Homo sapiens: one gene and its partners. The protein of the gene in region 3 purifies or fractionates together with the protein of the main gene of each other region. This does not show direct contact. Each region holds a gene or a part of one and is shown on either strand. Other genes may lie near its edges. The genes, in order: RALY, ITM2B, HNRNPUL1, SULF2, CEP135, LYAR and SERPINE2.

What was found.
Region 1: the proteins of HNRNPUL1 (region 3) and RALY fractionate together in Homo sapiens (co-fractionation; one large-scale study listed by BioGRID). This does not show direct contact.
Region 2: the proteins of HNRNPUL1 (region 3) and ITM2B purify together in Homo sapiens (co-immunoprecipitation; one large-scale study listed by IntAct). This does not show direct contact.
Region 4: the proteins of HNRNPUL1 (region 3) and SULF2 purify together in Homo sapiens (co-immunoprecipitation; one large-scale study listed by IntAct). This does not show direct contact.
Region 5: the proteins of HNRNPUL1 (region 3) and CEP135 purify together in Homo sapiens (co-immunoprecipitation; one large-scale study listed by IntAct). This does not show direct contact.
Region 6: the proteins of HNRNPUL1 (region 3) and LYAR purify together in Homo sapiens (co-immunoprecipitation; one large-scale study listed by IntAct). This does not show direct contact.
Region 7: the proteins of HNRNPUL1 (region 3) and SERPINE2 fractionate together in Homo sapiens (co-fractionation; one large-scale study listed by BioGRID). This does not show direct contact.

What each region holds. Positions count from the first base shown.
Region 1 is NC_000020.11:34,000,411-34,003,910, reverse strand, and holds part of RALY (RNA-binding protein Raly), read right to left. Parts: intron 1-3,500. UniProt on the Homo sapiens protein: RNA-binding protein that acts as a transcriptional cofactor for cholesterol biosynthetic genes in the liver. Binds the lipid-responsive non-coding RNA LeXis and is required for LeXis-mediated effect on cholesterogenesis.
Region 2 is NC_000013.11:48,257,206-48,260,705, reverse strand, and holds part of ITM2B (integral membrane protein 2B), read right to left. Parts: intron 2,581-3,500; coding exon 2,470-2,580; intron 1,910-2,469; coding exon 1,759-1,909; intron 1-1,758. UniProt on the Homo sapiens protein: Plays a regulatory role in the processing of the amyloid-beta A4 precursor protein (APP) and acts as an inhibitor of the amyloid-beta peptide aggregation and fibrils deposition. Plays a role in the induction of neurite outgrowth.
Region 3 is NC_000019.10:41,274,372-41,277,871, reverse strand, and holds part of HNRNPUL1 (heterogeneous nuclear ribonucleoprotein U-like protein 1), read right to left. Parts: intron 1,714-3,500; coding exon 1,574-1,713; intron 1-1,573.
Region 4 is NC_000020.11:47,670,482-47,673,981, forward strand, and holds part of SULF2 (extracellular sulfatase Sulf-2 isoform a precursor), read right to left. Parts: intron 1,913-3,500; coding exon 1,717-1,912; intron 1-1,716. UniProt on the Homo sapiens protein: Exhibits arylsulfatase activity and highly specific endoglucosamine-6-sulfatase activity. It can remove sulfate from the C-6 position of glucosamine within specific subregions of intact heparin.
Region 5 is NC_000004.12:56,018,445-56,021,944, reverse strand, and holds part of CEP135 (centrosomal protein of 135 kDa), read right to left. Parts: intron 2,593-3,500; coding exon 2,390-2,592; intron 1,270-2,389; coding exon 1,165-1,269; intron 1-1,164. UniProt on the Homo sapiens protein: Centrosomal microtubule-binding protein involved in centriole biogenesis. Acts as a scaffolding protein during early centriole biogenesis.
Region 6 is NC_000004.12:4,283,655-4,287,154, forward strand, and holds part of LYAR (cell growth-regulating nucleolar protein), read right to left. Parts: intron 2,919-3,500; 5' UTR 2,865-2,918; intron 142-2,864; 5' UTR 89-141; coding exon 1-88. UniProt on the Homo sapiens protein: Plays a role in the maintenance of the appropriate processing of 47S/45S pre-rRNA to 32S/30S pre-rRNAs and their subsequent processing to produce 18S and 28S rRNAs. Also acts at the level of transcription regulation.
Region 7 is NC_000002.12:223,977,416-223,980,286, forward strand, and holds part of SERPINE2 (glia-derived nexin isoform b precursor), read right to left. Parts: intron 213-2,871; coding exon 129-212; intron 1-128. UniProt on the Homo sapiens protein: Serine protease inhibitor with activity toward thrombin, trypsin, and urokinase. Promotes neurite extension by inhibiting thrombin. Binds heparin.

The DNA of each region.
Region 1 (3,500 bases), on a different chromosome or scaffold from region 3:
TCCCAGCACTTTGGGAGGCGGAGGCGGGCGGATCACGAGGTCAGGAGATCGAGACCATCCCGGCTAAAACGGTGAAACCCTGTCTCTACTAAAAATACAAAAAATTAGCCAGGCGTAGTGGCGGGCGCCTGTAGTCCCAGCTACTTGGGAGGCTGAGGCAGGAGAATGGCGTGAACCCGGGAGGCGGAGCTTGCAGTGAGCCGAGATCCCGCCACTGCACTCCAGCCTGGGCGACAGAGCGAGACTCCGTCTCAAAAAAAAAAAAAAAAAAAAAAACTGTTTGGCATATTTACCAAAGGTAAACATATGCCTAACCTAGGACTTACAGTATGAGGTTAGAGAACACTTACTCACTGTTCCCGCTGAACAGTTCACCTCCAGTCTTTTGCTCCATCATTGCCCCTGTCCAGATGCTTTCATCACACTTTTTCCCAATCCCAGAGACCAGCTGAGATCACTCTCCCTGCTCCCTACAAAGAGATCGATCTCCCCTCTTAAGGAAAATTCTGCCACTTACCTATTACCACTGACAAATGACTGATGGATTCTTCACATATAAATTGTCTCATGTGATTTTACAACGTTCTAATTTGCTCCTCACAATACCATTGTGAGGAAGGCAAGATATGGAGTGTTAACCCCACTTCACAGATGAGAAAATGGAACTTCAAAGAGAGAGAAGATGACATCTCCAGTTTACATGGCCTTATTATTCCAGACCCCACAGGCAATGCTAAATTGTTGGAAGAAATCGGGAGCACAACACAGCATCCCAAGTAATATTTCTCTCTGAAGGGTAGGAAAGAGGGAAGAGCCCTTCAAAACCAGGAGAGCCTCAATGTGCCCACCATTTCCATTTACTAGGGCTCCTTGCTGCAAAGTGTTCAAAGGCGGCTGGCAGTGGCAATGGGCTTCACGAACTACAATATAAACACAATTATCAAATCACAGACTGATCAAATGCCAGAAACCACACCTCAGATAATTCCACCTGCATACAAAATAGAGCTATTTTATTTCAAAATAGAGCATAATAAAACTTAAAATAATTCAACATGAAACTTAATTTTCTTCATTTCTACATAAGAAGCGAGACAATACCAAATCTTCCTGAAGCCAGCCAGAGAACTGTGTGGGTGTCCAGATGCAGATATCTGGACACCTAAACCTGAAAGGAAATGTTGTCCCCTACTCTAATATTCTTGACTTTACACACTGGGTGTTGGACACCTTAGCAACAGAGGATAAATATCTGTAAAAAACAGAAGGGAGAGAAGGGAATGCCAAAAAAATAAAGTCTACACACTGGAAGTCAGATTATCAAACTGGTCTCCTTGTCTACTGATACAGCCACCAATTATGTTATTTTCCGTTTGAACCCTCAATCCAAATATATGAGCCAGGGCGGCAGGCTGGATTTGCTTTACTTATCTGTCTTCCTCTCAAGACTGAAAGTAATTTGTGGACAGGAATTATGTCTTGTTGGTTTTTATGTTTTCCATAAGAAGAACATATAGGAGGTACTCCAAATTCCTGGAACGAATGGTTGAGATTAGGGATGGAAGGCTGTTGGGACTCCCAAGCATAAATAATCATGCCACGGCAACTAAGTAACTTCCTCTGAACCCTAATTTTAGTAAGGGTTGATTTTAATTGGTGTAAGAATCAATTAGGGTGAATCTTTAAAGTCTGAAGAGAAGTTATTCTTGTGCTCAACTGATTCACGCACAGCCCTCATTATTACTTTGGCAGCAGCACCATTCCTCAGTACCACCTTACAGGTATCCGCAAAAACAAAATTCCAAAGCCTTAAATTAATGCTTCAGGTAAAAAGGAAACGACGTGGTCAGGCGCGGCTGCTCACGCCTGTAATCCCAGCACTTTGAGAGGCCGAGGTGGGCAGATCACCAGGTCAGGAGATCGAGACCATCCTGGCGAACACTGTGAAACCCCGTCTCTACTAAAAATACAAAAAAATTAGCCGGGCGTGGTGGTGGGCACCTGCAGTCCCAGCTACTCAGGAGGCTGAGGCAGGAGAATGGCATGAACCCGGGAGGCAGAGCTTGCAGTGAGCGGAGATCATGCCACTGCACTCCAGCCTGAGCAACAGAGCGAGACTCCGTCTCAAAAAAAAAGGAAACAACATTCGATTTCTCAGTATAGTGTGGTCATATCTCTTACCAAAAAAACCCAAATCTAGATAAATGAAGTTATGGAAATGACCCTTTTAAATCTACTGCTGGGCTTGCTTTCACTAACACAAAGAATTTCAAAGGAAACTAGACAAATAGATCAAGAGACACCATGTAAGCAGTACCGTTAACTAAGCTTATTAAAATCCTTAATAAAATAAACAGGAGACAGCTAAATACCAGATAAATGCCTCTGGAATGAAGAAAATCTGGCCAATAACATTAAGCTTCCAAACCTGGCATTCTAAAAGAGAATATTTACTTGGAATAAAGCAATGAGTCTTACCTTGACAAATAACAGAGCTATTCAGTCTCTACAGATGGCACTTCAAGGGCCAGGTAACCTCAGTAGAGGCATCTACTCCATAAGCTAAAGCTCTTAGGAAATGCAAGTTTCTGGTCTAGTGTTTTTCCATTATTACCATTGTGTGAAAATCTTAAAATGTTTTTTATTTTTCCTTTATTATGTGATTTTAAACAGTTTGCTACATATTTTAATGTAATTTTTTTATAGTCTTGGACTCCAAGTTTGTCCCATGAGGCTACAGCTCCAAGTTTATAATGGAACTCAGCATACAATTTGATAAATTCATCTCACAAGCAATTTTTCAGCAATCTGTCCACTCTAAAAAGCAATATCCATCTGTTTATATACTGAAAGGTATCTTTTGTGAACCCAGAATTTAACCCTCTGAGATACTCTCAATACTTTAGCAAAGCCCTTTCTCCTTCCAGAGATAAATTCTCAAGCCACTTCCACAAAACTGTAAAAAGGTAGAAATATCACTCAAGATTATCTAGTCCAATTCCCTTGTTTCACAGACAGGAAGACAGAGATCCCACAGAATATTAGATAATTACAATTAACATGGGTTTGGCAAGCAACAAAAGCCCACTGACTGCTATTTTCCCCAGTCAAACTCATTGGTGTGTTGGGAAGATAGCCAGATTTGCACTTTAGTTAGTAGAGCACTCCCTAGGAAACTCAAGTATGTACCCTCTAAGAAACCCAAGTATTCAGCCACAACCCCCTACCCCAACCCCAGAATAGAGAACAGGGGGCAGTGGATGTCTTAAATGGCTCTTCTGGAGATGGAGACTAGAGCCCAGGGACAATATCCCATCTTTCCTTCCTTCCTCCCAGGAGGTACAGGACATTGATTACCATGAAAGCCATTATGAAATGACAGAAGACACTAACACTGAGGAAATAAGGCAAGGCTGTGGAAACAAAAGATGACCAACATTAATACTTGGCCAGATACCTGCTTCTACTTATTCGTTCGAAGAGAGGGGAGAAGTGAGAGA
Region 2 (3,500 bases), on a different chromosome or scaffold from region 3:
GAAATCATGTCCTTTGCAGCAGTATGGATACAGCTGGAGGCCATTATCATAAATGAATTAACACAGAAACAGAAAACCAAATACCTACCTTACAATGCTCTCACTTATAAATAGGAGCTAAACACTGGGAACTCACTGACATAAAGATGGGAATGATACATACTGAGGACTATAAGGAAGGGAGGGAGGGAGGGAGGAGGTAAGGGTTGAAAAACTACCTATTGGGGAACGCTTTTACACTGTTGGTGGGAGTGTAAATTAGTTCAACCATTGTGGAAGAGAGTGTGGCAATTCCTCAAGGATCTAGAACCAGAAATACCATTTGACCCAGCAATCCCATTACTGGGCATATACACAAAGGATTATAAATCATGCTGCTATAAAGACACATGCACATGTACGTTTACTGTGGCACTACTCACAATAGCAAACTTGGAACCAACCCAAATGTCCATCAAAGATAGACTGGATTAAGAAAATGTGGCACATATGCACCATGGAATTTTATGCAGCCATAAAAAAGGATGAGTTCATGTCCTTTGCAGGGACGTGGATGAAGCTGGAAACCATCATTCTCAGCAAACTATCACAAGATCAGAAAACCAAACACTGCATCTTCTCACTCATAAGTGGGAGGTGAACAATAAGAACACATGGACACAGAGAGGGGAACATCACACACTGGGGCCTGTCGGGAGGTGGGGGCCTAGGGGAGGGATAACATTAGGAGAAATACCTAATTTGGTGACAGGTTGATGGGTGCAGCAAACCACCATGGCACCTGTATACCTATGTAACAAACCTGCATATTGTACACATGTAACTCAGAACTTAAAGTATAATAAAAAAAAGAAAAGAAAAGAAAAACTACCTATTGGGTACTTTGCTCACTACCTGAGTGATGGGATCATCTGTACCCCAAACCTCACATCAGATAATATACCCTTTGTAACAAACCTGCACATGTACCCCTGAATCTAAAATAAAAGTTGGAAAAAAAAAAAAAAAAGAAATCAAGCTGGTTTCAGATGACTCAACCGCCGGAGATGAGAGAACAGTATTATTTAAAATGCTAGCAAAAAGCCAGGAAAGCACTTTTACTGGGTGACACAATTCCAAAGAAATCACACCACAGTGTATCTGAATGGCACTTCTTACTTTCCACAGCTGCCACATGTACTTTCTTTTTATTTTCACAATGCTCTTAAAAGGAAATGGGGAGATACTGTAATTCTTATATTTCAGGTGAGAAAATAAAAGTTAAATGATTTGGCAAAGCTACAACATTAGTTGTATCAATGCTCTTAGTTCTTCACCCAAATTCCTTTCCAACTACCCTGACAGTGATTATTCCCAATATGATCCAAAAGGCAAACAGCCTGCTTAGAATCCAGATCCCTGAAAACACAGCTGAAGAGCTGGTCCCAAGACACCCTCTGGATAATAAAAACCCTTTCAGTATGGCTCAACCAAAGTGGTAGGATGGGAAGTTGGACAGGGTGACTAACTAGATGGAAAATGAGGTACCATCATCTCAAGGCAATGACATTTCACATTGACCTTTTCTCTCCACCTGAAAAGAGTGGACTTACTAAATGGAATTAAGATAATTCTATAGAAACCTGGAAATATTATATAACGACACAATATTACCTCACTCATGGCAGGTATATTGGTAACAATGACTAGGCTTCACCTAAATCTAGTTTAATGCAATGAACTTTTCTGCCCAACACTTTAATATTTAAAAAGTATTACCTTTAATAGTTTCTCTGCGTTGCAGTTTGTAAGTTTCCTTGTCATGACACAGTCGATAAATAAAGAAACCCAGGTGATCAATGTTTTCAATGCGATCAGTAATAACCATGTGCTCATGAATCAGATAGGACTGAGGCAAATAGGTTCCAGCCTACATTCAGAAAAGAATACATGACATGACTATCTCAGAACATACACTGAGTAGACTAGAGAAACAAGACAAAATTCTTACACATTATGGTATGGAACAGGTTGCCAAACTACTACCCACCATCTGTTTGTTTATGTTCTCACTATGTTGTCCAGGCTGGTCTCAAATTCCTGGCCTCAAGCAATCCTCCCACCTAGGTCTCCCAAAGTCCTGGGATTACAGGCATGAGCCACCGCCCCCGGCTTGTTTTTATAAGTAGAATTTTTTTTGGAATATAGTCATGTTCATCTGTTTTACGTATTGTCTATGGCACCAGAATTAAGTAGTTGGCTAATATTTACTCCCTGGCTCTTTAGGAAAACTTAAAACATTATTTGAGAAATTTATTTCAATTTCAAGATATAAAACATTAAAAACAAAAACCATGAGTATTAGTTCCTCTTTGTAAAATTCTTAACTACAGTCTGATAAAATGGGCTCCTATAGGGCTAATTTCTCAACAGGGAATTCCAGAACACTATGAAGGCATCATTCATCAAAAACAGTCAACATTCTTATACCTTGATGTTAATAAGTAACTCCAGTAGGTTTCTGGGTGGCATAACAATGGAAGTGTTCAGAGGGATCACATAGCACTTATCCAGGTTAAGATCTAAATAGGCTGTAAGTTTCTGGGAAGAAAAAGATACAGTGTAGTTACAGTAATACTTGCAAAAACAGGCAGCAACTGGATTTTTAAGAATAATTTGTATCATTAAAATGAATTGGCTTTAGAATGTATAAATCACTTGCATTTCAACAAATTCAGAATTTGGCTGGATAAAGTTGGAAGTGGGAATGGGAGAGGAAAAAATATTGCTACCAGTAAATAAAATGCTCATCGAGGGTATATTTCTATAATAAGTAATAATACCTATTCAAATTAACTGCAAATACTTATTATATAATTAAGCAATTTAACTTCCCCACTTATAAGCTCAAATGCCCTCTAAGGTTATCTGTCCATTGTTTGTAAAGATTAAATTTTCTCATATGTATCTTGAATACTACCATCCTTAGAACATTAGAAAAACAGTCATTTAAATGATTTTGTGTTCTGTGGTTCAAATGAGAAACGCTGGTTGAGAAAGACTGTCTCATAGAACGGTTTTTAAGAATAACTTAAATCAAATAATGTCAACATTTTGATTCCTAAGAGCTCAGTAAGTGTTAACTATTATTATTTACTATTTGCTTTGGAAGTTTATTTCCTTGAAATAAGTAAATTTTCAAACTGGTTTATAAACATCCATCAGATGTATTTATCAGGCACGAAATGTTTGCAAAGCTAACTTCAGTAATATATTCGAGTGTTCAAAATGGCAAGCTTACAGAGAGACATAAAAATCACAGGTGATACATGAACTTCTGAATCTCTGAATCCTGATTTGAAAAAACAAAAAATTCTTGGGACAAAAATTGGGGAAATGTAAACATAAACAGAAATGTAAACATATTAAATACAGTAGTCCCTCTTATCTGAGGTTGTGCTTCTCGAGTTTCAGTTACCTTTAGTTAACTACAGTCCACAAATACCTAGGTGAGTACAGCA
Region 3 (3,500 bases):
CACATTTTAAAATCTCTGAAATCAGGATCCATTTTACAATAAATGTGATGAGAAAGCACTGCGTATGCTGGGTGCGGCAGCTCACGCCTGTAATCCCAGCACTTTGGGAGGCCAAGGCAGGCAGATCACCTGAGCTCAGGAGTTCAAGCCCAGCCTGATCAACATGGAGAAACCCCATCTCTACTAAAAATACAAAAATTAGCCGGGCAGGGTGGCACATGCCTGTAATCCCAGCTACTGGGGAGGCTGAGGCAGGATAATTGCTTGAACCCGGGAGGCAGAGGTTGCAGTGAGCCGAGATCGCGCCACTGCACTCCAGCCTGGACAACAAGAGTGAAACTCCATCTCAAAAACAAAAAAACAAACAAACAAAAAAAGAAAACACTGCGTAGTTTATTTTGTTGCAGTGTTTCTCTATGAGAGGTACATAAAATAATGCACAACTTACATCAATGGTGTCGTGGTCAATAAAATATAACCCTCTGTGTTTCAGCTTCTACCTCTAAAAACTGGGGCTAACAGTACCTGTTTCCAGATGGTACTGTGAGGATTAATGGAGATAATCCATGTAAAGAGCTTGGTGCTGTATCTTGTGCATGCAAAGAGCTCTATACTTATTAGCTATCATCAGTAAGTTTGGATACACAAACCACAGGTAAGAAATTGTTAACACAGAAGTTCCCTCCAGGGAGTAGGATGGTAGGATGGGAACTGAGAGGACATGAGAATAACCTGTTTTGTTTTTTTTGTTTTTGTTTTTTTGTTTTTTTTTTTTGAGACAGAGTCTCACTCTGTCACCCAGGCTGGAGTGCAGTGGCGTGATCTCGGCTCACTGCAACCTCTGCCTCTTGGGTTCAAGCAATTCTCTGCCTCAGCCTCCTGAATAGCTAGGATTGCAGGCACCCGCCACCATGCCCGGCTAATTTTTTTGTATTTTTAGTAGACAGGGTTTCACCATCTTGGCCAGTTTGGTATTGAACTCCTGACCTTGTGATCCACCTGCCTTGGCCTCCCAAAAGTGCTGGGATTACAGGCAAAAGCCACCACACCTGGCGAGAATAACCTGTTTTATCCTGTACTTTTCTGTGCTGTCTGAACTTTTGTTAAACATGAGCATCTATTATTTTCATAAACATAACTTGACATGGAACTGTGGAGAGATGACAGCAGAGGCTGGCCTAAGCTGGCAGTTCTTTGCCCTGTTCTCCCTCTGGCCTCCCTTTAATAAGTGACATCTGAGTCTATTCTTTCTAGATCACTTTTCTTCCAAACAACTTCTTTTCTCAGTTCTACAAACATGTCATCACTACACTGGTTGACTACATAATACCTGGGTCAAATCTCACCAAGGAAATATCTGCTTGATGAAGCAATGCATGGTTGGCCTGCTTTTCTGATATGATATTTAGCAATGATGTAGTTGTCTTGAGTTCATCACAGTTTTGTCTGCTTGGACATGGTATTGCACAATCCAATCTCTTTTGCAGTTGCAGCTCTGACCAAGGTGGCTGGTATCAGGATATTACAATGGATGGACTTCTCTGTCCCTTCCCCTTCTCTTGCTCCTACTCACCTTCATCTCGAAGCATACACGGCCCCTTCTGACCCCATAGCTGGCACGGGCTCCTGACCACAGGTATGCAAAGCCCTCAATTGTGAGCGGATAGCCACTACTCCGATCTCGGGCCACCTTGAAGTGGAGGTCGCAGTTATCTGTGAAGGAAAATGCCCACAGTTGGCTGATGTTTTTATTTTGTTTTGTTTTCTTGAGACGGAGTTTCACTCTTTTTGCCCAGGCTGGAGTGCAATGGTGCGATCTTGGCTCACCGCAACCTCCGCCTCCCGGGTTCAAGTGATTCTCTTGCCTCAGCTTCCTGAGTAGCTGGGATTACAGGCATGCACCACCACACCTGACTAATTTTGTATTTTTTAGTAGAGATAGGGTTTCTCCATGTTGGCCAGGCTGGTCTCGAACTCCCGACCTCAGGTGATCCACCTGCCTCGGCCTCCCAAACTGCTGGGATTACAGGCGTGAGCCACCACGCCCGGCCTGGCTGATGTTTTAGAAGTCCTAAGAAAGAAGCAGGCAGAGGGAACTTCCCCAAGTGCTGACCAGGAGTACACAGTGAACACATCATGGGGGCAGTTTCAAAAGGAACCAGCACACCCCTCAACCTCTCTCCCTTTGAGTAGGGAGGATGTGCAGTATTGCAAATTGGCCTGTATGACCTCAGAGAGGAACTGGGGTTCTTTATCTGGTGGGATCCAAGGATGGGGCTTCAGGGGTATCCTCAGAAATTGTCAACACATGTCTTTGGTGGGGATGTGTATTTGCTAGGGATAGGGTCCATATCCTCAGCAGTTTCAAATTAATTTTTTTTTTTGAGACAAGGTCTCGCTTTGTCACCCAGGCTGGAGTACGGAGGCATGATCTCGGCTCACTGCAACTTCTGTTCTCCTGCGCTTAAGCCATCCTCCCACCGCAGCCTCCTGAACAGCTGGGACTACAGGGATATGCCACCATGCCAGGGTGATTTTTATATTTTTCGTAGACAGGGTTTCGCCATGTTACCCAGGCTCAAACTAGTTTTTAGAATACAAAAAGGTTAATCACCACCACCATATATTCCTACCGCCCTCTGTGGTAATTCTATCAATTTGGGAACCGGACTTCTGTTTCCAATAGCTATACAGGGATCTGACCCTGATCCACACCTGCCACCCAGGAACCAATGCCCAGGTGCCCCATAGGCTCCTAATTCCTTTCATGGGCCTAGGACTCTCCTACTGTTGCTCTTACCCTTCTCAATATTCTCAATATTCAAGGAGCCAGTCACGCCTCCAAGAAAGCCTTTCCTGACCATCCCTCCCATGAGGCGCTCTCCTTTCTCTAAAGGCTGACCGTCATGATCTGTACATTTGCATTTCATCTAGACGCTGCCTCATGAACCACTGCCACCCAACACTTTTTAAACAATGTTTACCTCTACTCTGGGTAGATGTTGTTTTCGAGAGCTTGTGATATTAGAGATTGTGTATATTTTTATCTCTTACTAAAGCATGTAGCCAGTGCTTTATAAACAGAAGCTTCTGTAGAAATAGATGAATAAATTGCTGCTTATCTTCTGCTCTGTTGAGAAGTGCAGTGTTCTCAGACCTGATTGGGCTTCTGGGTGCATGTAAAAATTTAGATTCATAGGCTCGACCACTTAGACTCTTGACTAGGAGGTCTGAGCGAAAGGACCTTTATAATAATTCCTCCAAATGCTCAGATGCACAGTGAAGGTGAAAGCCACTTATCCAGTGGAAAGAAAACTGAACTGGAGGACAGACAGCAGGGCGGGCCAGGTTAGTGCCTCACAGGACACAGTGGCATTGGTTTCACCAGGAACTTGAGCAGCTGATGGAAACGGGAACTGGTTGTCAAAGAGTTAAGTTTCCCCAGCTGCACTCAGATTCCCTTCCTGATTAGATGACAACCCCTGTGTGTACAGGGCGGT
Region 4 (3,500 bases), on a different chromosome or scaffold from region 3:
GTGCCCGATCAGGAAGGAGATTCCAACACAGGCTACCATGTGGATGAACCCGGAGAACATTATGCGAAGAGAAATAAGCCAGCCACAGAAGGACAAATACTGTACAATTCCACTTACATGAGGCCCCTAAAGCAGTCAAGCTCATAGAGAAGAAGAGTGGTTGCTGAGAACGGGTGGGAGAATGGGGTGACAGCAGGGTGGGAGAGCGGGGTGGGAGAACGGGGTGGGGGTGGGAGCGGGGTGGGAGAATGGGGAGATAACGTTGAATGGGGACAGTTGTAGTTTTGCAAGATGAAGAGTTCATTTAGCAGATAGGTTGCGTACTAGTGGGAATATAGTTGACACTACTGGATACTTAAAAATGGTTAAGATGATAAATTTTATGGGAATTTCACCATAATTTTTTTTAAAAACAACACCTAAAATCTCTCATTAGGCTTTGGCTGTCCTTAGGCCAGAGAAATGGGCTACGTGGGAAGCTGCCCAGCCTTGGAGGGCACACTTCTAGCCGGCGGACCCCGACGCCTCCACACATTTTCAGGGCACAGGCTCATTCTTGTTTTAAAGTCATGCAGGGACCATTCTTCCTGTTTGATGGTGGGAGCTGAGCCTCAGAATGGTGAAGCGATGGCCCAGGGTGGCGGCTGAGCCTTCTGGCTGGGTCTAGAAGAGTCCCTCTCTCCACTTCGCCTGCTCCCTGGCTTCTGTCTGACTGTCCTCTCCTCGGCCCTTGCCGAGAATGAGGTGTGAAGGTGTAGACACTTCTTCAGCTGAGTGAGGCTTTTCCCCACTCAACTATAGTCTATTTTTGTTCTTCAGGGTAGTTTATTTTTTATTTTTTTTGAGACCGAGTCTCACTCTGTCGCCCAGGCTGGAGCACAATGGCGTGATCTCAGCTATCTGCAACCTCTGCTCCCGGGTTCAAGCGACTCTGCTGCCACACCACACGCCCAACTAATTTTTTGTATTTTTAGTAGAGATGGGGTTTCACCATGTTGGCCAGGCTGGTCTTGAACTCCTGACCTCAAGTGATCTGTCCACCTCGGCCTCTCAAAGTGCTGGGATTACAGGTGTGAGCCACCGCGCCCAGCCCAGGGTAGTTCTATAAACTCACCACAAACACTGACTAATTGAACGCTGAAACATGGCTCCTAGGGGAAGCACAGAGCTGGGTTCCTGTGAACCTCTGGTCCTAGCATTTTCACCAGCCAATCAATACAGAACCTTGTATGTGTGTTTCTTCCTTTTTTTTGAGATGGATCTCGCTCTGTTGCCCAGGCTGGAGTGCAGTGGCACAATCTCGGGTCACTGCAGCCTCTGCCTCCTGGGTTCAAGCGATTCTCATGCCTCAGCCTCCCAAGTAGCTGGGATTACAAGCGTGAGCCACCACATCTGGCTAATTGTTGTATTTTTAGACGGGGTTTTACCATGTTGGCCAGGCTGGTCTGGAGCTCCTGACCTCAGGTGATCTGCCTGCCTCGGACTCCCAAAGTACTGGGATTACAGGCGTGAGCCATTGCGCCTGGCCTTATCTGTTTATTACTACTGCTCCCCACTAGAATGGGTGGCTCGTGAGGAGATGTGGCTGTGTCCCCAGCCCCTAGATCACCACCTGGCAAAGTGACAGTCTCTGTGGAACTGTCGGAGTGAATGAATGGGGCCCCCCAGGCATGGTCTCTCTCCTCCTGTCCCACTCAGCCAGGTTGTGACACTTACTCTTCTTGAAGAGTTTTTTCCGGCGTCCGGCCAGGCTGAGCTTGTAGTCCCCGCTGTCACAGGTGCAGGCCTCGCTGCCCTGCCCGTAGTACTTGGGCACGAGGTTGGAGAGGGCTCTGCTGCCGCCCAGCCGCATGGGGCCCTTGCACTTATGCAGCTTCAGCTTCCCCGTGGCGTCCTCCACACACTGCCACTTCTGAAAGACATGCCAGGGCCTCGGCCAGCTGCTCATCTGCTCCCCTAAACCCGCCTCTCCCCTGCCACCCCCATCCACCCTGGAGACATCCCTCTCCCTGCTTGCATCCAGCTGTTACCGAGCCCCACCTCTGCTATCTCCAATGCCGCTTCTCTCCACTGCCACTGCTTGAACCTTGGGCAGAGCTACCATCATCCCCCAGCGAGATGCCTCCGACAGCCACCACTCTCACGGTTACCTGCTTCTGTCTGCTCCTAAAATCCACCCACATGGCAGCTAGAGGAATCTTTTTAAAGGGCAAGTTGGATCATATTACTCTCCTACTTAAAACCCTTCAATGGCTCCCACTGTCTTTAAGACAAGACCCAAGCTCCTGATACTAGTCTTTGAACATCCTCTGCAATCTGGCCCTGGCCTACCCATCGGTCCTCCTCTCCCTCAGCCCTCTCTCCAGTATCCCCTGTGGGCTGCTGCCCCAGGGACTTGGCGCTCACTGTTCCTTCTGCCTAGAATGCCTTTTCTCCAGCCCTTCCTGCTGCTGGAGGCTTCTCTTCCTTCCCGTCTGCTCCAGCGCAAGGAGGTCTCCCCTGACCACCTTCCCAGACTCAATCAGTGCAGTGTGTGCAGAGGCTCCACGTGTGCACTCAACTCCAGGCCTGTGGTCAGACGCTGAATGTAGATAGAATCACTGTCCAAATCTCTCGTGTTGATCCTTCTGCTCTTCCCCAGTTCCAGCCTCCTGGATCCCCTCACGGGATTCTGCAACCACCTGTAAACTGGATTCTCTTCCCTTCTGTCCACAGCTGCTCCAGCCCATTGACCCAGTGACTCTTTAGGGCCTATTCTGTGCCAAAGTGACCTTTCCAGGCCATGGGTCAGATCTGTTCCCTGTGTCTCTCCAGCACTTAGCATGTGCCAAGCACTGTGTGTTAATATATTAACTTGCTTACTACACCTCACGCTACCCTACGAGGCAGGTGCTGTCATTACTGTGCCGATTCAAGATGAGGCACACGGAGGTAGAGAGATGTGTCCTGGGTCACACAACTGGGAGGTGCAAGAGCTGTAAGGAAAAGTGTGGAGTCTGGTGCCACCATCCCCCCCAACCCTCTGCTGCACCGTCTGCCCCCGCCCGCTGCCGTTGAAGGCCCTGGTGCCTTTCACCTGCTCATCTTGCCCCTGTCCCGCCCATCTGTTCTCACCTGGAGGCTGAATCTAATTGCATTCACAGCGCCCTGCCACCCTCCCATCCCCTTCAATGCATGCAGGCCCTTCCAGCAACCTGGATTCCTTAGTGCAGAAGTAGACTGATGGGCCAGCAGGCATGGCCCTGAATGAGGCCAGCCCAGAAGCGCCTGGGGGACCTGGGGAGGCTAAAGTGGGCACTGTGACCGGCTATACCCATCTGACTGTCGCCAGAGGGGAGCACAGGCCCAGAAGCCCAGGTCTGATTTTTCAAGAAAAGCCAGGGCTCTGAGTTCTGCGTGAAGCCCTGAGCTGTGTGCGCTGGCGAGCAGCCTCCTGTCCACTTAGCTCTCTCTGCCTGGAATTCTCCTTCCCCACTGCCTGCTCCCCGCTCCAACCCAAC
Region 5 (3,500 bases), on a different chromosome or scaffold from region 3:
AATCCTCCCACTTCGGCTTCCTGAGTAGCTGGGACTACAGGCACCCATCACCATGCCCCAGCTAATTTTCAAAAATTTTTTTGTAGAGATGGTGTTTTGCCATGTTGCTCACGCTGATTTCAAACTCGTGGGCTCAAGTAAATCCACCTGCCTTGGCCTCCCAAAGTGCTGGGATTGCAGGCATGAGCCACCAAGCCAGGCCTTTATGAAATCGTAAATATTGATTTCATAGCAAATTGTCACTATACTTCAAATAGCACATCACTACAAAGTTTTGACGTAAATAGGTAAGAATAACTCAAAAACTGATCTAACAAGCAATTTGGCCACTAATTGAGAATGAAATCTCAGGAATGCAGATGTCTATGGTATTAATATAGTAGGAAAGAGTAATGGAAGACAAGTAACTTGGCAACTGATTTTCAAGTTAGACTTCGATTTAAAGCAGGTCTCAATCCGGGTTAGTAACACCTGGGGATTAAATTTTTCAACGTAAAGCAAATGAACCAAAATATGAGTGAATATGAAAATTACCAAGCTGTAGGGAATACATTGAAGAGGTTAAGGGTACAGGTTTTAGAATTAAAATCTGTTTGGTTTCCTACCACTTACTATTTATGTGATCTCAGTTTCCTATAAGGTAGGCATAATAATAGATTGTTGGTGGGATTCATCAGACACTTATATAGTGTCTGGTCCACATTTGTTAACTGCTGTTACTATCTTCAAATCATTACCTTTATTATGATTTGTATGTGGAACATCCTACTTGAACCATACATTTTGGAGCTCTTATAGGGATTGTTGTTGCTTCTCTATACTCTTTGAAATACTTTTGGATTCTAATTTTGTCCTGCGGAATGCTATAGGAAATATTTATCCAATACTTCCTATTTTACCTTATTTTTCAGATTATTAAACAATTTTATTCAATAAATATTTATATAGCATCCGCTATGTAATACTTGCTATTTTAGTTACTGTAGAGCTATTATCTTCCCCAACACTTGTTGCCTTTTTTAAAAGGAAGAATTACCAAAGAAATGTACTTTATGTATTAGCTTTTTAAAAAGTTTGTTATTTGTAAAGCCATATTAAATACTTTCTGAAGTACAATAGAGAACACATAAAAACATTGTCAAATGTAAAAAAAATTTGTCTTACCGTTCGTATCTTTCAGTTGAGATCTGCCTTTTCAGAGCATCATAATCTGTTTGTAACTGTGCCACTTTAGCTCGAAGCATGGTGTTTTCCCGGCTTTGACTAGTTCTTAAAAACAAATTAAAAAATCAAGAAATAAACGTTCCGTTTTGTAGAGTCAGGTGCTGTGGGTTTTTTAAATTAATAAAGAGAAGATCAAGACCTTTCAACAAGAATTCTCTAAACTTCTAGAGCTTTTATCACATTTTCTTTTTCATTCATTTAGTTTATTTATGAAACATGTACTGAACATCTATTATGTGCTAAGCACTAAAGCAATGCTAGGGATACAAATTTGAACGAGACATAAATGGTAACACCAAGATGTAAAGTGTCTTCATTGGCTCTTTCTTGACTCTTGCCTTGGAAAGAGAAATATTAATATTTTTAATACCTTTCAAAAGCTCATTCTTCCATGTGTACTCTACTCTGGGTTTCTTTCCCTCTTCCTACAAATATGTCTAAATCCTTCTATTCTAAAAATATGACATAATCAGTCTCTCCCAAAGTAATCAATACATGTATGTGGGTCAAATCTCATAGCCTTTTTAGAGTCCTTTTTCCTAATCTACAGCATAAGACACAGCCACCTCTTCTTCTCCCGAGAACACTTTCTCCTTCACTGACTCCTCTGTCCATTCCTCAACTGTAGGCGCTTTCCTAACGTTTTCTCTTCTCATTACTCCCACGGTACAACCTCTGTAGTGAAGATATACAGGTCTGCACCTCCCAACACGATGTTTCTCCCGAGTCAGTCTCCTAAATTTCCAAAAGCAGCAGATGTATAAGCCAAATATTTTGGTTTTGGGACAGCGTCTCGCTCTGTCGCCCAGGATGGAGTGCAGTGGTGCAATCTCGGCTCACTGCAACCTCCACCTCCTGGGTTCAAGTGATTCTCACGCTTCAGCCTCCTGAGTAGCTGGGACTATAGGTGTGTGCCACCACGCCTGGCTTTTTTTTTTTGTATTTTTAGTATAGACGGGGTTTCGCCATCTTGCCCAGGCTAGTCTCAAACTCCTGAGCTCAGGCAATCTACCCGCCTTGGCCTCCCAAAGTGCTGGGATTACAGGTGTGAGCCACTGCACCTGGCCTATCTTTCATACTCTTAACCTTTCCTCCACTTCAAAAAAATTAAAAAACTATCCTTCACAAGCAATTGTCTTTGCATAAGTTGACTTAAGACACTTACAATTTGCTTTCAGAAAGGGTTAACTTCTCCTTAAGTAGCTGGATTTCTGTATCCTTCTCGTGGGAGGTTAAGTGAGAATGAAATTCTTTATCTCTGTTTGTAGCCAACAATGATTCGAGGTTTTTAACTGTATGTCTCTCATTTGAAAGTTGTTTTTTCAGTAGGTCTGACTCTGACTTTACATTTTCTAATTCCACCACAACCTACGTGAAAAACAAAGTAAGATTACTTCAGTACAATTTTAAACTTACTCTGAAAAAATTATTTATCTGACAATATAGCTCTGTGGAACTATTCACCTATCACTTGTTTCATTTTGGGTATGGGTTAAAGATTATGAACTGTTTCTTTAAGTATAAGAAAGACACTTTATTTTCAAAATAATCTTTGCTATTTTTACTATGGGCTTATTTGGCTATAGGATCTACTCAAATCCTCAAATAATTTTTAGTCATGGTACCTTATCAAGAGACGGTCATTAAGATAAAACCACAAGGGCAATGAGACCCTTCTGGTTGAATATGCTTACTCTGACTACATAATCAAGCCAGTATTATAGTTTCTCAGTACCTGAAAATAAAGATACTACTAGATGAGTGAAAATTGAAAACATCCATGTTTGAAAACAAACACTAGGTTATTTAAAGTAATGCCTCCATCTGGGAAAGGTAAATTCTAGCTAAATAGACTTGTTTAATTAAGATTTAAACACCTTGAGATTTTTATCGGGAAAAATATTCTACTTCGGAAGCACTGAACTGTTCAATCCTTCATTCAAGTCTTACTTTTTTTTTTTGAGACAAGGTCTCACTCTGTTGCCCAAGCTGGAGTGCAGTGGCACAATCTCTGCTTACTGCGGCCTCGACATCCTGGGCTCAAGTGAACCTTCCCTGCCTCAGCCTCCCGAGTAGCTGGGACTATAGGCACATGCCACATGCCTGACTAATTCTTTGTATTTTTTGTAGAGACGGGGTTTTGCCATGCTATCCAGGCTGGTTTCAAACTCCTGAGCTCAAGCAATCTGCCTGACTCGACTTCCCAAAGTGTTGGGATTACGGGTGTAAGCTATCGTACCTGGCCTCAAGTCTTACTTTTAAACAGAGAAAGAATG
Region 6 (3,500 bases), on a different chromosome or scaffold from region 3:
ATTCACAGTTTCTGCAAACAGACACATGCTTTTCCACTTGTATTTTCTTCACTGATTCACCACATGCATTGCATGTAAAAAATACCATTTTTAGGTAAATGGCTAAATATTCTCTATCCAAGACAGGTTTTAAGTCTTGTCCTAAGGAAAAAAAGACAATTATAATTATAAACTGAAACTTCTCATTTCAATAAATGGCTCATGCCCCTAACTTTTCAACCATAATTTCACATGAAAATAACAGAGTCAAAGTTGATTAGCAATCTACATAAAATTCCACCATTCATATAAGTAAAACTAACATTAACAATGAGAATGGCTAACATTTATTGTGTCCTTACCACGTGCCAGGCACTATTCTAGAGGCTTTACATTTATTCACTTATTCAATCCCCGCAGTAACCCTATGAGGGAAGGACTATTATTGTTCAAAATTTATATGAGGTAACTGAGACACAGAGATTACATAACTTGCCCAAGGATACACGGTTAACAGAACCAGGATTTAAACCTGGCAGATTGGCTCTCAAGATGAAGAGCTTTGAGGGTGTTAAATCTTACTTTCCATAATACCTTAAACTCTCTCTCTGTATATGAAACTTATAGAAGGCATTGCAATTTAGGTGTACACTACAAACTATTTCAGGTCCTCAAATATACTAAGAACACAGCAAGAGGAAAACTGAGTGAAGTTTAGAAAGTGAAGAAGAGGCAATTCTATGGGCACAATTTCTATGGCACTAAAAGCATTCATATCAATATTACTATATATCTACAAAGGTTAAAATGAGGACATGCGCCTCAGCTGTAATGGACAGGGGCCTTCTTCATGTGGCAGCTTGTCAGACAAGTCAGAAAGAAACGGAACCAAGTCCAGGTGTCCCAACTGCTGGGTGCTGAATTACTGGAGTTCACAAACCCAGGTGTCCCGAGCACTGCCCCAAAAAGAAGTATGTCTGCACACGCACATAAACATCATTGTAAAATTTCACAGAAATGCTACCGTGCTCAGGAAAACACAAATTCGTCTAGAAGTGTTAGAGAAGTCACAGTAATTTTCCATACTTACATAATTTTTAATCACTAGATTTTAAAACAGCATTGTTGTTTTACATTATAAGTTTTACAGCAAAAATACTGAGAACTGTTTAACCCAGAGCTTTCTTCCTCATTAGGAAAATAAAGGTGAGGGTCAAGTAAACCGATGCAATTTACTTCAGGGTAGGACTTCATCCAACAAGCTTTCAGTACAAATGATCTACCCTTGGTTTGCAGAGAATTCCCATGCATGAAATCACCGTTGCTCCTCCACCAGCATGTTTTGGATCACTGCCAGTGAGGCCACACCCAAGCAACGACCAAGGTTATTCATGTCCATTCAGCCTTGAATGGAAATGTACATCCTGGCTGCATCTCCAGGGTTCACAAAGGTCCAGCTGGTCTCTTGTGGAGGCCTCTTGCCCTGTGGGACACTATCAGACATCAGCTCAGCTTCTACGCTACATACAAACCACAGACCCCTGATTCCGCGGTCCCAGGCCCCGCTCCTCAGCTCACTATCAGTGTATGTTAGTAAACGGACAGCATGTGGTCAGCTACAACCTAGCACCAAATCCTCAGGAAGGAAAACATGACTACCCTCGATGTGCTGCAGCAACTGTCATCTTCTCATCTGCTTACTGTAAAGATGTGTGATATTGTCAAGCTCCTGGGAGCTGGAATCACGTTTCCCACAACCCAGCTCCCTCAAAGCTTACCATTCTAAAAAAAGGCAGAGGGATGATCAACATGTCAGGCAACAAGAGCAGCTATCCTGCCTGACAAGGGAGAACAAAGGCTGGAATAAGAGCCAACATCACATTCTCAAAGAGCATGGAGGTGCACTTTGGTGTAAGAGCAGGAATAACTTATTAGTCACCAAGAAATAGATTGTCATCACAGGCACAAGGTGAAAGCAGCCGTGATATGCCAAATTATCTGCTGAAAAACGTTAAAGCACTTTTCTAATAAGATACAACAACAAAAAACAGTCTCTGAAACTTAGATACGGCTTAGAGCTTGCCAACCTCTGTTGCTGAGGACAATTCTATTTCTGGATGGAGTGGGAGATGGGAGGAAGAAAGGTTTCGACAAGGCTTAAGAGTGAATTGAGAGATTCCTGTCCCAGCAGGAATTAAAGGCCTAGGAAGGAAGCTGGAAACAAAATATATTGACTGAAAGAAGCAGTGAAAGCAGTGATGTTGACAAAAAGATACTCAAGAGTAACTGTGCCAAACATTCTATCTCTCTGGAGATCGGCTACACACTACAGTGTAATTAAATATCAATTCAGAAGGTGATTAGAATCTGGTTACATGTCCAGCTAAAAAATAACTCTCACATCATTTTCATTTGGTCTTTACTTGTTTAAGGCCAAATGGGTGGATTGCACAGGAAGTCAGAACTGTCTCTTCCTGCCTTCCTCCGGATTTTTACACTTGCCATGAAATGGGAACAGCTCTGTGTCCACTTGCTTGGCTAATGAGCTAATGTCTGTAAGGAGCTTACCTCTCCTTTATTCAGAGCCTGGAGGACAGTCCAGCACCTTGATTACACCTCAAACCCAACCTAGCCCCAGGCGAAAATACCTGTAATTTATGCCATAAACACTTGCTTGGGCTTCAAAGAAAAGCTCAAAACCATCAGAAGCTTCAAAGTCAGCCTAACTGCACAGCAGACAGGGTGTCCCAGGTCTTAGTGCAGGCTTAATATTCGTAAGCGTAAATGCTACAAACTTACAAAAAGCCGTCAGGTGGAAATTCAGTCCCTCTAATGGAAGACAGCAAACATTGCCTAAAACAAAAATGTAAATACTACAAACTTACAAAAAGCCGTCATGTAGAAATTCAGTCACTCCAATGGAAGACAGCAAACATTGCCTAAAACAAAAAAGTAAAACGGTATTGTTCAAATTCCACAAGACTAGATAAGCATGAAGGAAATTTAATTAAACTTTTTTTTTTTTTTTTTGAGAAAGGAGTCTCGCTTTGTCGCCCAGGCTGGAGTGCAGTGGTGCATTCTTGGCTCACTGCAAGCTCCGCCTCCCGGGTTCATGCCATTCTCTTGCCTCAGCCTCCCGAGTAGCTGGGATTACAGGCATCCGCCACCACGCCCAGCTTATTTTTTGTATTTTTTAGTAGAGATAGATGGGGTTTCACCGTGTTAGCCAGGATGGTCTCAATCTCCTGACCTCGTGATCCGCCTGCCTCGGCCTCCCAAAGTGCTGGGATTACAGGCGTGAGCCACCGCGCCCGGCCTTAATTAAATTTTAAATGATGTTTTGGCAAGTTTGGATCATTTATGCTTCTGAAATTATGAAAGCTTAAAACTGCATTAAGATTTTGAGGACACCCAGTCTGCCGGGCTCAGATGTGACAGATTTCAACATCTAGCCCTAAGTGTAAAAAGACAGCAGTTTTTTCATGGGGCTGGATCTAAATAGAGTCCTCTTTTCCTTCCCT
Region 7 (2,871 bases), on a different chromosome or scaffold from region 3:
CAAAGTGTCTGCAACTATTGACATTAGGGAAATGGACTATGGGCACCACTGTTGGATATAATGAAGAGTGCAATATACCTTTTGAAATTCTAACAGAGAGGGCATGATGGAAGAGGAGAGTCACTTACCTGTAGGATTATGTCGGATGAAAAACAGAAAAGGTCTGTCTACTATAAACCAGGGAGGCGATGATCTTGCAATGAGAATTGCAGCTACGGGAAGAAAAGGAAAATGTGTTGTGCACATTACATGAGACCATGTAAGCATAAGGCCAGCAAGTTAGCTAGCTTCATGGACCCTCAGAGGCTGGTGTCTGAAGACACACTTCATGCTTGTTCCATAGGCTGGCCATGTTACAACAGGCTCAATGGTCACCATTTACTAAGCCTACCTTGGGCCAGGCCCTTTACATTACTCTCTCATGTCTTCTACACAAGCACCATCTCTGATAAACATACTTACTCCTCATAGAGTTTTGATGAGAATTAAATGACATAATTAAATGACATAAGATATATTATAGCTCTTAGAACAGTGTTTGCCACTAAACACATCTAATGCATATTTATTGTTATTAGCTATTTTTTATTCACACCATCTGCTTTGCTGATAAAGCCCCCAGTCCTTTTTTTTGGGGATGGAGTCTCACTCTGTCACCCAGGCTGGAGTGCAGTGGCGCGATCTTGGCTCACTGCAACCTTTGCCTCCCGGGTTCAAGCGATTCTCCTGCCTCAGCCTCCTGAGTAGCTGGGATTACAGGCATGCACCACCACGCCTGGCTAATTTTTGTATTTTTAGAGACAGGGTTTCACTATGTTGGTCACGCTGGTTTTGAACTCCTGACCTCAAGTGATCCACCTGCCTCAGCCTCCCAAAGTGCGGGCATTACAGGCATGAGCCACCGCGCCCGACCCCTGGTCCTGTTTAGCTTCTCTAAATCTTTTCTGTATATAAAGGCCCAGTCCAATTCTTAGCTTTTGTGTCTGTGCCTTCTCCTTTGGCACATTATTTAGGTTTCCTCTGCACTGGAATGTAGACCACTCATCCGGGACCTACTACCTTATACTGCTGTTCCACTCACCAGGTGTAGGCATCTGACTTGGAAAGCAAACTTCTTTAGCCTCATGGGTCTTGGCCATTCCTCGTCTGCCAGGCTTGTTTCCATTTAATAAGCCTGAACCAGGGCCTCACGGGAGGGTAGGTGTGTGGCATTACTACCACATGCCTGTTGCAATAGCTCAGTCCTCTTGCTCAAACCCCATGAAGTATTGAACACTTGGGCTTGATGTTATAAAGGAAACAGCTGCAGTTATGCTGGGGCAAGCCCTTTTACCCAGGGTTATTAAAAACAAATATTAAATAGCAGGTGTTATGGACTGAAATGTGTCTCCCCCCAAATTCATATGCTGAAGCCCCAAACCCCTAACGTAACTGTATTTGGAGATAATGCCTTTGAGGAGGTAATGAAGGTTAAGTAGGGTTCTATTCTAATAGGACCGTTGCCCTTATTTGAAGTGGGAGAGACACCAGGGATGTGTCACATGGAGAAAAGACCATGTGAGGACACAGGGAGGGGGCGACCTCCGGAGATCCAGAGATCTCAGGAGAAACAAACCTGCCAACACCAACACCTTGATCTTGAACTCGCAGCCTCCAGAAGTGTGAGTTCTGTTGTTTAAACCACTCAGTCAACGGTATTTTGTCATGGCAGCCCAGGCGGACTAAGACAGGAGGACCTGGGCGGTTACATGGGGCCCTGCACTGGGTTTAATACTCTGCTGTTGCTATCTTGAAATTCTTATACATTTTGAACAAGGGGCTCCATATTTTCATTTGGCACAGGACCCCACAAACTATGTAGCTGGTCCTGATAGTTACACTCAGCAAAACTGGTCAATAACTTTTAGATGTTACTTAAAATTACCTAGAAAAGACAAAAAGCATCTTAAAATTTCCAACCCTCTTATTTCAGGGTCTTTGTTTTAAATGCTTCTTTAAAGGAATTTTTAAAACGTTTATTCGAGAAAGGCAATAACACATCTATTGTGAGTATAACTGGTATGTTTCAATGACCAGAGATATTTGACCCAGCTGCAAGTGTAGCTAAGATTTTCACTTTATGGGCTCACAGAGTTGGCCAAATCTATTCATCTATTTTCCTACGGATAATGAGGGGTGAAAAAACTGACTTACGATTGTTCTGTTTTCTCCTTCATTATGTAAACCACTGAGGAGGAAGCAGATGTGGATGTTCTAATTATCAAGGAAGGCTGTACAGCAATCCTGCCGCAATTCAACAGATGCTGGCGAATTCTTCGGTTTATCCTGGATAGACCTGATTGCCTATTTTCCTTTAAGTACTTGTTGTTTATTTTATGTTCAAATCTGAAGATTGGTCTTTTTTGCCAGTAAGAAGCCAGAACATGTTTTATCCTCCTGAGAGCAGGGGTCAGCAAACTATTTTCCTCAAGGCAAGTCTACCAGGACAAATCCTGTTTTTATAAATAAAGTTTTATTGGAACACAGCCACATCTGTTTACTTGTATTGTTGATTGCTGTTTTCATGCTACAGTGAAAGAGCTAAGAAGCTGTAATGGAGATGGTATGACACACAAATCTGAAATACATACTACCTGGCTCTTTATAGAAGTTTGCTGACTCCTGTCCTAGAGGAATTTCTCTCACTGAAATGCTTTTCTTTAATGAAACAGATTCTGAGCTTTGTGGTTACAGGTCTTCAGTCTGTCTGTACTCACTGCTGTCTCCTGAGGGTTAACCCACACACACTGCCTGGCTGGAAAGAGGGTGCATTACATATTTGCTCAACCAATGAGTATACAGGAATGTGTTTGCTCCCCTGCTAGAGGAAGC